Regions from separate parts of the Homo sapiens genome. Here region 1 is linked to region 2. Evidence: fine-mapped QTL for protein levels in blood plasma. A gene starts in region 2. The other region holds a variant in brackets. All regions are shown on one strand. Distances are between the middles of the regions.

Region 1 (4,373 bases), 14 kb before region 2:
CCTCCTTCCTTCCCTGCTGGCAGAGCTGAAGTCAGCACAGTGTGGTTTCCTAACCGTGCAACCGGCTGGAGCAAGTGGTTCAGCTTTCTGAACCTCGGTTTCCCTGGCAAGAAAATGGAACAATCATTGCACCCACATTATGAGGTTGAGTCCTAAATGAGATAATGCAGACAAACTGTTTGACAAGGCACTAGGTATGCAGTAAGTGCTCAGTAAAGGCCAGCTGCTTGCCCCCGGCCATCCCTCTTAGTCCTAGGCCCCAGCTCTGCTGTGTTGTGTTCTCTGCAATGAGAGGGCTGCGCTGTACTCGGTTACCCTCCCAAGGAACAGCGCCTTCCCTCAGCAGCCAGGAGCCACAGAGGGTGACTAATGGGGGACTTCCAGGCCCCAGGGCAGGTCAGCAGGGCTGAGGTTTTGGGGCGTGGGATTCCCCCAGAACCCCGCTGTGATCTCAAGGACAGCGTGACACAGTGGTAAGATCCTGGCTTTCAGGTCTGGGTTCCAATCTCAGATCCTCTTCATGACCTGGGGCAGGTGACTTCACCTAGCTCTCATCCTCAGTTTCATCTTCTGTAAAATGGGGAGAATACTAGAACCGTCTGTGAGAGCTGTTTGAGGGGATTCACGGGGATATTGCAGCTGTGTGTGTGTTCAGGATGTGTTTGCTGAATGGATGAGTGGGGTGATTCAGGCTGGTGGTCCTCAAGGGCATGGGAGGCCCAGGCAGGAGGGGAGGGCACAGGGGTGTGCAGGAGCCAGACTATATCTGCCCGTGAGAGCTAATCAACAAAATTTTCAGAATTTTGTGTCAGTTGTTTAATAAATTAAATTCTATTATATTAAAAGCCAAGGTCATCAGTACTCAAAACTCACCAATTCCTAATAATTGTACTACATTATCCGATGATCGATGCCCTTGTTACTAACACCTATTGTATCATCAACTATATAATGGTTGGTAGCTCAAAATCGGCTGTGGGAGTATTTACATGGAAGACATTGGCAAATGCTACAAATCAGGACTTTTTCCCATTGGAAGCCAGTTGTTAAACACTTAACAGCACGCCACTGGCTTTGGGGCTCCTTCCTGGCTAAATGATCTCCAAGTCTGGCCCAAGGGAAACGCAGGCTTCCACCTGCTCTAAGAGCTGGCGGCGGGCGCCCCCTGGTGGCCGCTTCAAGCACCCGGCTTCGCCCACCCTGAATGAAATCCCACACCTTGGAGAGAGAGAAAACTGTAAAGGGAAGGTGGCCCTCTTCCAACGCAAATGGAAATCTGTGGTTACACAGCATCCTCAGGAGCTGTCAGGAAATAGGGGAAAGCTCCCAGGAAGACGAGGTGACAAGATCCCTGGGGAACAACTCAGAGGTCCTTCAGCCTGAGTCCACAGCCCCCTGCTGTGGAGCCTTCAGCTCCCCTTCTCTGATTTTTCTGATCCCTCCCAAAGGGGAGGTAGACTCAGTCTCTCCTGACCCATCAGCCTGCCGACCCCGGGTGTTAACTGACCCAGCCCATGGCAGACACTCCCACCTTCTTCCATCAGCACCCCCAGGACACTTTGAACACACCTGCCTGTGTGTATCAGATTTGATCCTTCCAGAAGTTCAGGGGAGGAGACAGACACTGCATTTCCAATATGTGTGGGCCCTCTCCCCACTCCTCCCCGATGCTGTCCCATGGCCTTTCCCCCTGACGGCTCTTTCCTACCTTTCCCTTGTCTCTTTCCTCCAACCCCTCTCTCCCAAGCCACAGCCAACCCCTGCCAGACTCAACCTTCTCTGTGAACTCCCCTTTTCCGGGATAAACCATTGGGGGCAAGGAAAGAAGTCCTTCACTTCCAAAGAGGCCATTGAAGGTATTTTTTTTCTTTTTCCTTTTCTTTTCTTTTCTTTTTTTTTTTTTTTTTTTTTGAGACAGCTTTTCACTGCTGTTGCCAAGGCTGGAGTGCAATGGCATGACCTTGGCTCACTGCAACTTCTACCTCCCAGGCTCAAGTGATTCTCCCACTTCAGCCTCCTGAGTAGCTGGGACTACAGGCGCACATCACTGCACCTGGCTAATTTTTGTATTTTTTGTAGAGACGGGGTTTCACCATGTTGCCCAGGCTGATCTCAAATTCCTGAGCTCAAGCCGTCCTCCTGCCTCGGTCTCCCAAAGTGCTGGGATTACAGGCGTGAACCACCACACCCAGCCGGAGGTATTTTTCAAGAAGAAAAATAAAGACTATCCCCTGAGATGACTTTTATTCCTCTCCTAGAAGGTAGAACAGAGTCTGTTTAAGCGGCAGCTTCTTTCTCTCTCTATGGAAATGACTGGAAGGTATTTGGGAGCAGAAGAGCAAGAACTCTCCAAATCCTGGTTTTCTAATCTGACTGAAACTGCCTTTGCAAAAATTATAACTGAGGAAATGATGACAGTGGAAGAGACCAGACCGAACAGACTCCATCTTGCTTCTAGCCTTTAAGCTGTCCTTGTTCATTCCTTCCCCAAAGTTAGGCTGAACTAACTTTGGGAAATAATTCAGTTCGTGTTTTGACTCTGAAACAAAATTAATAATATCCCTTCCCCCCGAAAAGACCCCCTTCTTGCCTGGGGACCGATCTGCCTTTGCAGGACTAACAAATTAGCTACAAGATTCGAAATTATGGTTTAGGGGTCATGCAGCCTCTGGCTCCAAGAGTCTAAGCCTCCCCAAATTGCTCCTGTGGATAACATCAGTATTGTAAAACCTCAGAGCACTACGTGAGATATTTTGCAGACCCCGCACTGGATGGATCAGTTGACACCACCTAGGCTGGTATTCTGGCTCAACCAGTTCTGCCATCGCAGCCGGGAACAGAAGACATGAAGAAAACCTCACTGCAACCCCCTATGACTGTATCTCCAACCTGACCAATCAGCACTCCCAACTTCCCAAGTCCTTACCCGCCAAATTGTCGTTAAAAACTCTGATCCCCGTCTCCTGTACAGCCTGCTCTGCATGAATTACTCTGTCTCCCTTGCAATTCCCCTGTCTTGATAAATCGGCTCTGTCTAGGCAGCAGGCAAGGTG[G/A]ATCCACTGGGCGGTGACCTGACCCCCACAAGGTAGTGTGAGTTTTGAATGGGATAATGCAAGTGTTGCTTAAATAGCAGGGCCAACCTGGTTTACTGGGGCTGAGTTTCACGGAATATGGGACTTTCAGTGCTAAAATCAAGAAAGTTCCGGGCAAACTGGGACGACTGGTCACCCTATGCTTAAAATCAGGCGTCAGCAAACTGACGGAGCTGAAATGAGCCTGCCGCCCGTTTGTAAATAAAGTTTTATTAGAACACAACCATGCGCATTCATTTATGGACATATTGTCAGTGGCTGCTTTTGTACTACAAGGACAGAGTTGAGTTGTTGCAACAGAGGCTATGGTGTTGCAACAGTTAAGGCCTACAGTATTCACTGTTTGGTCCTTTAAGAAAAAGTTTGGCAGCTTGAACTTTTCCACCATTTGACAGCAAATCAGTGCTTCTGTGAGTTGTACAAAAGGTTGCAGGCTGCATCTAGGATCACCAATAAGCTACTGGCTGTTAATGAGAGACAGGGCCTGAGTGAAAAGGAGAGGTCAGGGTGAGCTTCTGGAGAGTGGGAAAGATTCTGTGCTTGGCCAAGCTTTAATCAGTCAGGCCCCTGAGTCCTCTCCTAGGCCCATCTGTGCACTTCCTTTTAAAATCCAGTTCTGGGCCGGGCGTGGTGGCTCACACCTGTAATCCCAGCACTTTGGGAGGCCAAGGCGGGAGAATCACCTGAGGTCGGGAGTTCAAGACCAGCCTGACCAACATAGAGAAACACCATCTCTACTAAAAATACAAAATTAGCTGGGCGTGGTGGCGCATGCCTGTAATCCCAGCTACTCAGGAGGCTGAGGCAGGAGAATCACTTGAACTCAGGAGGCGGAGGTTGCAGTGAGCCAGATCGCGCCATTGCACTCCAGCCTGGGCAACAAGAGCAAAACTCCATCTCAAAATAAATAAATAAATAAAATCCAGTTCTAACAAGAACTCTGCTAAGTCAGCTTAGCAACAACCCTCCCCCCACCACTCCATATCTGATCACCTCCCATATCTGATCACCTCCTATATCTGATCACGTTCCTCATCTGCCACCATCCCCCCGGTGATGTCTGAGCACCCTGGCCTGCCTCCAGTATGAATCCTGTTAGGTCAGTGTAGAAAATGACCGAGAACCCATCCCCAGCAGTCAGTTTAGCCAGAATTCCCCTTCCCCTGATGTTTCCTCTTGGTAATTTTCCAGCTGCAGATATCCAACCCTGTTCCCTGGCTATCAGCTCCCACTTGCCCCTGCTGTACTCATAGTTGAGCCCAAATGCCCCCACTGCAAAAT
Region 2 (4,313 bases):
ACAGTGTTAGTTGAGATTTTTTTGTTACACCCCCCTCCCTACCCTCCACCCCACCAAGAACCAAGTTACACCTGTTGGAACCCAAACTTGCTGGCCTGATCCAGAGGCAGTAAGGTACTTGGCACAAATGAATTCAATGAGACCTACATCTGGTTAGTTGAACAACTGTCTTTAAACAGTTTTCTAAACACCCCTGTGTAGACAGACAGATTAACAAACACAGACCCCCAACACACACACACCAGCCATCTTATCTCCTTCTAGACCACTGGCCCCCACTGCCATCTTCCTGTTCAAGTTCAGCAAAGGAAGCCGAGACACAGGCCTAGGGTCACCACGAACTCCATGGGCATCCTGCAGCCAGAAGCCATGCCGCCAGAGGCAGCTGCTTCTCCCCTTCAAGCCTCAGTTTTCTCATCTGTAAAAGGGGCACTGTCCACCCTCCAAGGTTCTCGGATGATTGATTCCCCAGCTCCTCTGAATGCCCCACTCTGGGCCCAGCCTAGCAACCCAGCCCTTCCGCTCTCTGAGGTTTAACTCCCCTGGCTGCTGGCCAAGCCTGCTGAGGGAGGCATCAACCACCCAGGGCACGGCCTCGGAAGAGACTCTGGGGCTGTCTGAGGGCCTGGGAGCCACCTTCTGAGGCCCCGGCCCACTGAGGGGCCTGGCTCTGGGGGCCTCAAAGTCAGAGATGGAAAAAAAAGGAAAACAGAAGAAAGAGGAAAGAGGAAGAGAATTCCAGGCAACAGAAGCCCAGATATCGACAATATGGGGTGTGTGTGTGTGTGTGTGTGTGTGTGTGTGTGTGTGTGAATGTGTGTACAGCAGGGCACAACTGGCCCCCACCATTTCCTTTTAGTGTCCTGAAAGTATCTCAAATACAAACTAATAAGAGTATTCTAATTTTTTTTTTTTTGAGACAGGGTCTCACTCTGCCACCCGGGTTGGAGTGCAGTGGCACAATCTCGGCTTACTGCGACCTCCCCCTCCCAGGTTCAAGTGATCCTCCCACCTCAGCCTCCCAAGTAGCTGAGACCACAGGCATACACCACTACACCTAGCTAAGTTTTTGTATTTTTGGTAGAGACGAGGTTTCACCATGTTGCCCAGGTTGGTCTAGAACTCCTGAGCTCAGGCCAACCACCTGCCTCGGCCTCCCAAAGGGCTGGGATTACAGGTGTAAGCCACTGCACCCAGCCAAATATTCTAATTATTATTATTATTATTGTTTTCCCTTTTGCTAACAATAGTATCTTAATTCTAATATTTTAATAGTTTGCCACAGACAAGTGTCATTTCCTCAGTCTTATAAAAAGTGGGAAGAATGCATCTTTCTCTGAAAAGAACTTTTTTATGCGTCCATAACATGCAGCTTCAAGAGAAATCCTGCACTCCCCCTACTTTCTGGAGTCTTCCAGACCTAATCTCAGCTCTGCCCCTAAACAAATCCCTTCACCTCTCCCGACCTCAGTTTCCCATCCAGGAAAGGAGAGGATAAGATCATTTCTAGGGAAACACTCATGGTTTCTCTGATTTTCAAAATCAGAATGCCGCCAAGCCAGACGCTGCAGGCAAACTGGCCAGGGAGGGAAGTAAGTTAATGGGAGGCTGGGGCTGGTGGGTCACACCTGTAATTTCAGCACTTTGGGAGGCCAACGCAAGAGGCTTGAGGCCAGGAGTTTGAGACCAGCCTCGGCATCAAAGTGAGACCCCATCTCTAGGAAAGGTAAAAATATTAGCTGCATGCGGCGATGTGCGCCTGTAGTCCCAGCTACTCAGGAGGCTGAGGTGGGAGGATCACTTGTGCCCAGGAGTTTAAGGCTGCAGTGAGCCATGATTGTGCCACTGCACTCCAGCCTGGGTGACAGAGTAAGACCCTGTCTCAAAAAAAGAAGGAAAAAAAAAGTTGGCAGGAGCAGGATTCAGAAGAGTCACAGAATAAGGCCACAGACTCCAGGAAGACTTTAGTCTTGAGTCGGAGGAGCCTCAGTTTGCCCTCCCCAGGTGCTGCAGCTCAAGAAGGGCCTGGCGGTCCTACCCGGGCCTGCCAGCAGCTATAAGGCAGGCCCTTGGCCCATGGGGACCTCCAGCCACTCCCTGTGGTTTTGCAAGCCAGCACTTACCACCGTGCTCAGCAGAGCATGGGACAGCTGCCTCGTGGGCCCAGAAGAAGTGGCTTCTCTGCTTTAGTGACAAGGTCCCAGCCCACGCTGCCAGGCACTGCTGTGGCACCCCCTGCGGCAGTCCCGGATCCGAGCAACCCCCAATGGCTGTGTGTGGAAGGAGGAAGCGAGAATGTGGTTACTTAGGCAGGGCCATGTGACAGCCCACACCCCATTGTTTGTGACAGCTTTGGTGACAACATTGATAAAGACAGGGTGGTAGTGGGGCACCTCCTAGGTCTGACACTGTTCTTGGGTTCCCATAACTGTGAAAACACTGAGAACCAAGTAGAAGCTTTCTGGGGAGAAGTTCTTCGGTTTTGGGTGGGGCCCAAACTGAGAAAGGCCACAGCATTACTTCAGCAGCAATGGACAGTCGGGGCCAGAGGGAGCCCCCTGAAGGACAGGAGTGACCAGAGAAAAAGGAGAATGGTCTCGCTTCTTGCCCAAGATTGGTGGGGCGTGGGGAGGGGTGGGAGGTGGTCAGGGAGCAAAAAACACAAAATATGAACCTTCAAAGGGTTTGCAAATATGGTGTATTTCTTCTCGCAGGACTCAAAACACTCTCTGTAGATGCACAGCACAGGCCCTTTCAGCTGCAACCAAGAGCCTCTCTAGGGAGCTGGACTACAGATACCACAAGGGCAAGTCCTGCTTATCTTATTTCTTCATCCTAAATTTGTTCATTTGACCAACTCTGGCACTCCAGACTGCATGCCCTGAGGTCTAAAGGCCAGCAATTCTGGGCTGTGGCCCTCTGGTAGCCCTCCATCCAATGGGGAGGCCAGCGAGTAAACAATTCGGTGGAACATCATGCCACAATGACACAGCGCAGTGAGTGCCATCCTGCGGTGAGCAAGGGAGGGGCCTCTCCTTCCATCCTGGGTGGGGGAGGGAGGTTAACAGGAGGAGCTTCCAAGAAGTGGCACTTGAGATGACAAGCCAGGTGGGCATCCCAGGCAGAGAGCACAGCAGAGGCAAAGGCTGGGAGGCCTAAGAATACCCAGACACTTCCAGAAGGGAGGGAATAGGGGGGTCTCCCAGGATCTGCCCTGCGGCTTTGCACCAGGCAAGGGCTCAGGACATGCACAGAAAGATACTCATATCTTGCCTTGCACAAAGTTGTTTTTTTTTTTTTTTTTTGAGATGGAGTTTCACTCTTTTTGCCCAGGCTGGAGTGCAATGGCACAATCTCGGCTCACCGCAACCTCCGCCTCCCGGGTTCAAGCTATTCTTCTGCCTCAGCCTCCCGAGTATCTGGGATTACAGGCATGTGCCACCACCCCGGCTAATTTTGTATTTATAGTAGAGATGGGGTTTCTCCACGTTTGTCAGGCTGGTTGGTCTTGAACTCTCGACCTCAGGTGATCCACCTGCCTCGGCCTCCCAAAGTGCTGGGATTACAGGCGTGAGCCACCGTGCCCAGCCGCACACAGGTTGTTTTAAAATGAAAACCAGAGACCCAGCAGGTGTTCGCCATGACACAGTCTCAGCCACCTTAAGAAGCTGCAGCTGGAAACAGCCAAAAGCTCACCCTGCCGGCACGGACAGGGAAACTGAAGCCACAAGAGGGGAAGTGAGACCCCTAGAACCCAGGCCCCTCACCCTTCCCCAGCAGGTTTGGAAATAGCCATCCTTCAGGGACAGGGGACTGAGAAACTCTAAACACACCCAAGACTGCCTGCAGGTCACTCTCTGATTAGCGGAGGTGAGTGGTTGCAAGCTGTCTGTCACATCCAGCCTGCCACGTGGTTTTGTGCAGCTTGTGAGCTAAGAATGGTGGTTACATTTTTAAGTGGTTGGAAAATGTTTTGTGATGCATAAAAACTGTGCGAAATTCGAGATTCCGTTTTCATAAAGTTTTCTTGGGACACAGCCACACTAATTGGTGTAAACATATTGTCTCTGGCTGCTTTCACGTTGCAGCGGCAGAGTTGAATAGTTTCATCACCTGCAAAGCCTCACAACACAAACGCTTAACGTTTCCTGAGCCTGTGGTCAATGCCAGACCCTGTGGTAGGTGCTTTGCATACATCAGCTCATATAATCCTCGAAGCTGCCTTTAGAAATGAGGAAACTGAAGCTGAGAGGGAGAATGTGCCTTGCTCAAGGGCACACAGAGTAATGGCAGAGCCAGGACTCAAGTCCAGG

The links. PIP is the posterior inclusion probability: the model's chance that the variant is causal. Sun 2018 read protein levels with aptamers (SomaScan).
Region 1: its variant is fine-mapped to the plasma level of the SELPLG protein (Sun 2018, PIP 0.95).

What each region holds. Positions count from the first base shown.
Region 1 is chr12:108,617,127-108,621,499 of GRCh38, forward strand. No RefSeq gene overlaps it. Among named protein-coding and RNA genes, the nearest start is that of SELPLG, 15 kb to the right of the region's middle. RefSeq lists enhancers at 166-625, 1,206-1,255. The variant G/A (reference allele first, on the strand shown) is at 3,054.
Region 2 is chr12:108,631,617-108,635,929 of GRCh38, forward strand. SELPLG (selectin P ligand) reads right to left here and starts at 2,278. Exons shown (of 2, transcript NM_003006.4): 1 at 2,124-2,278. It overlaps MIR4496 (microRNA 4496), which reads left to right and starts at 4,194; the gene lies at 4,194-4,254. It overlaps LOC105369968 (a long non-coding RNA gene), which reads left to right. Exons shown (of 3, transcript XR_007063449.1): 2 at 2,715-4,313. RefSeq lists enhancers at 192-341, 1,750-1,799 and a silencer at 3,040-3,089.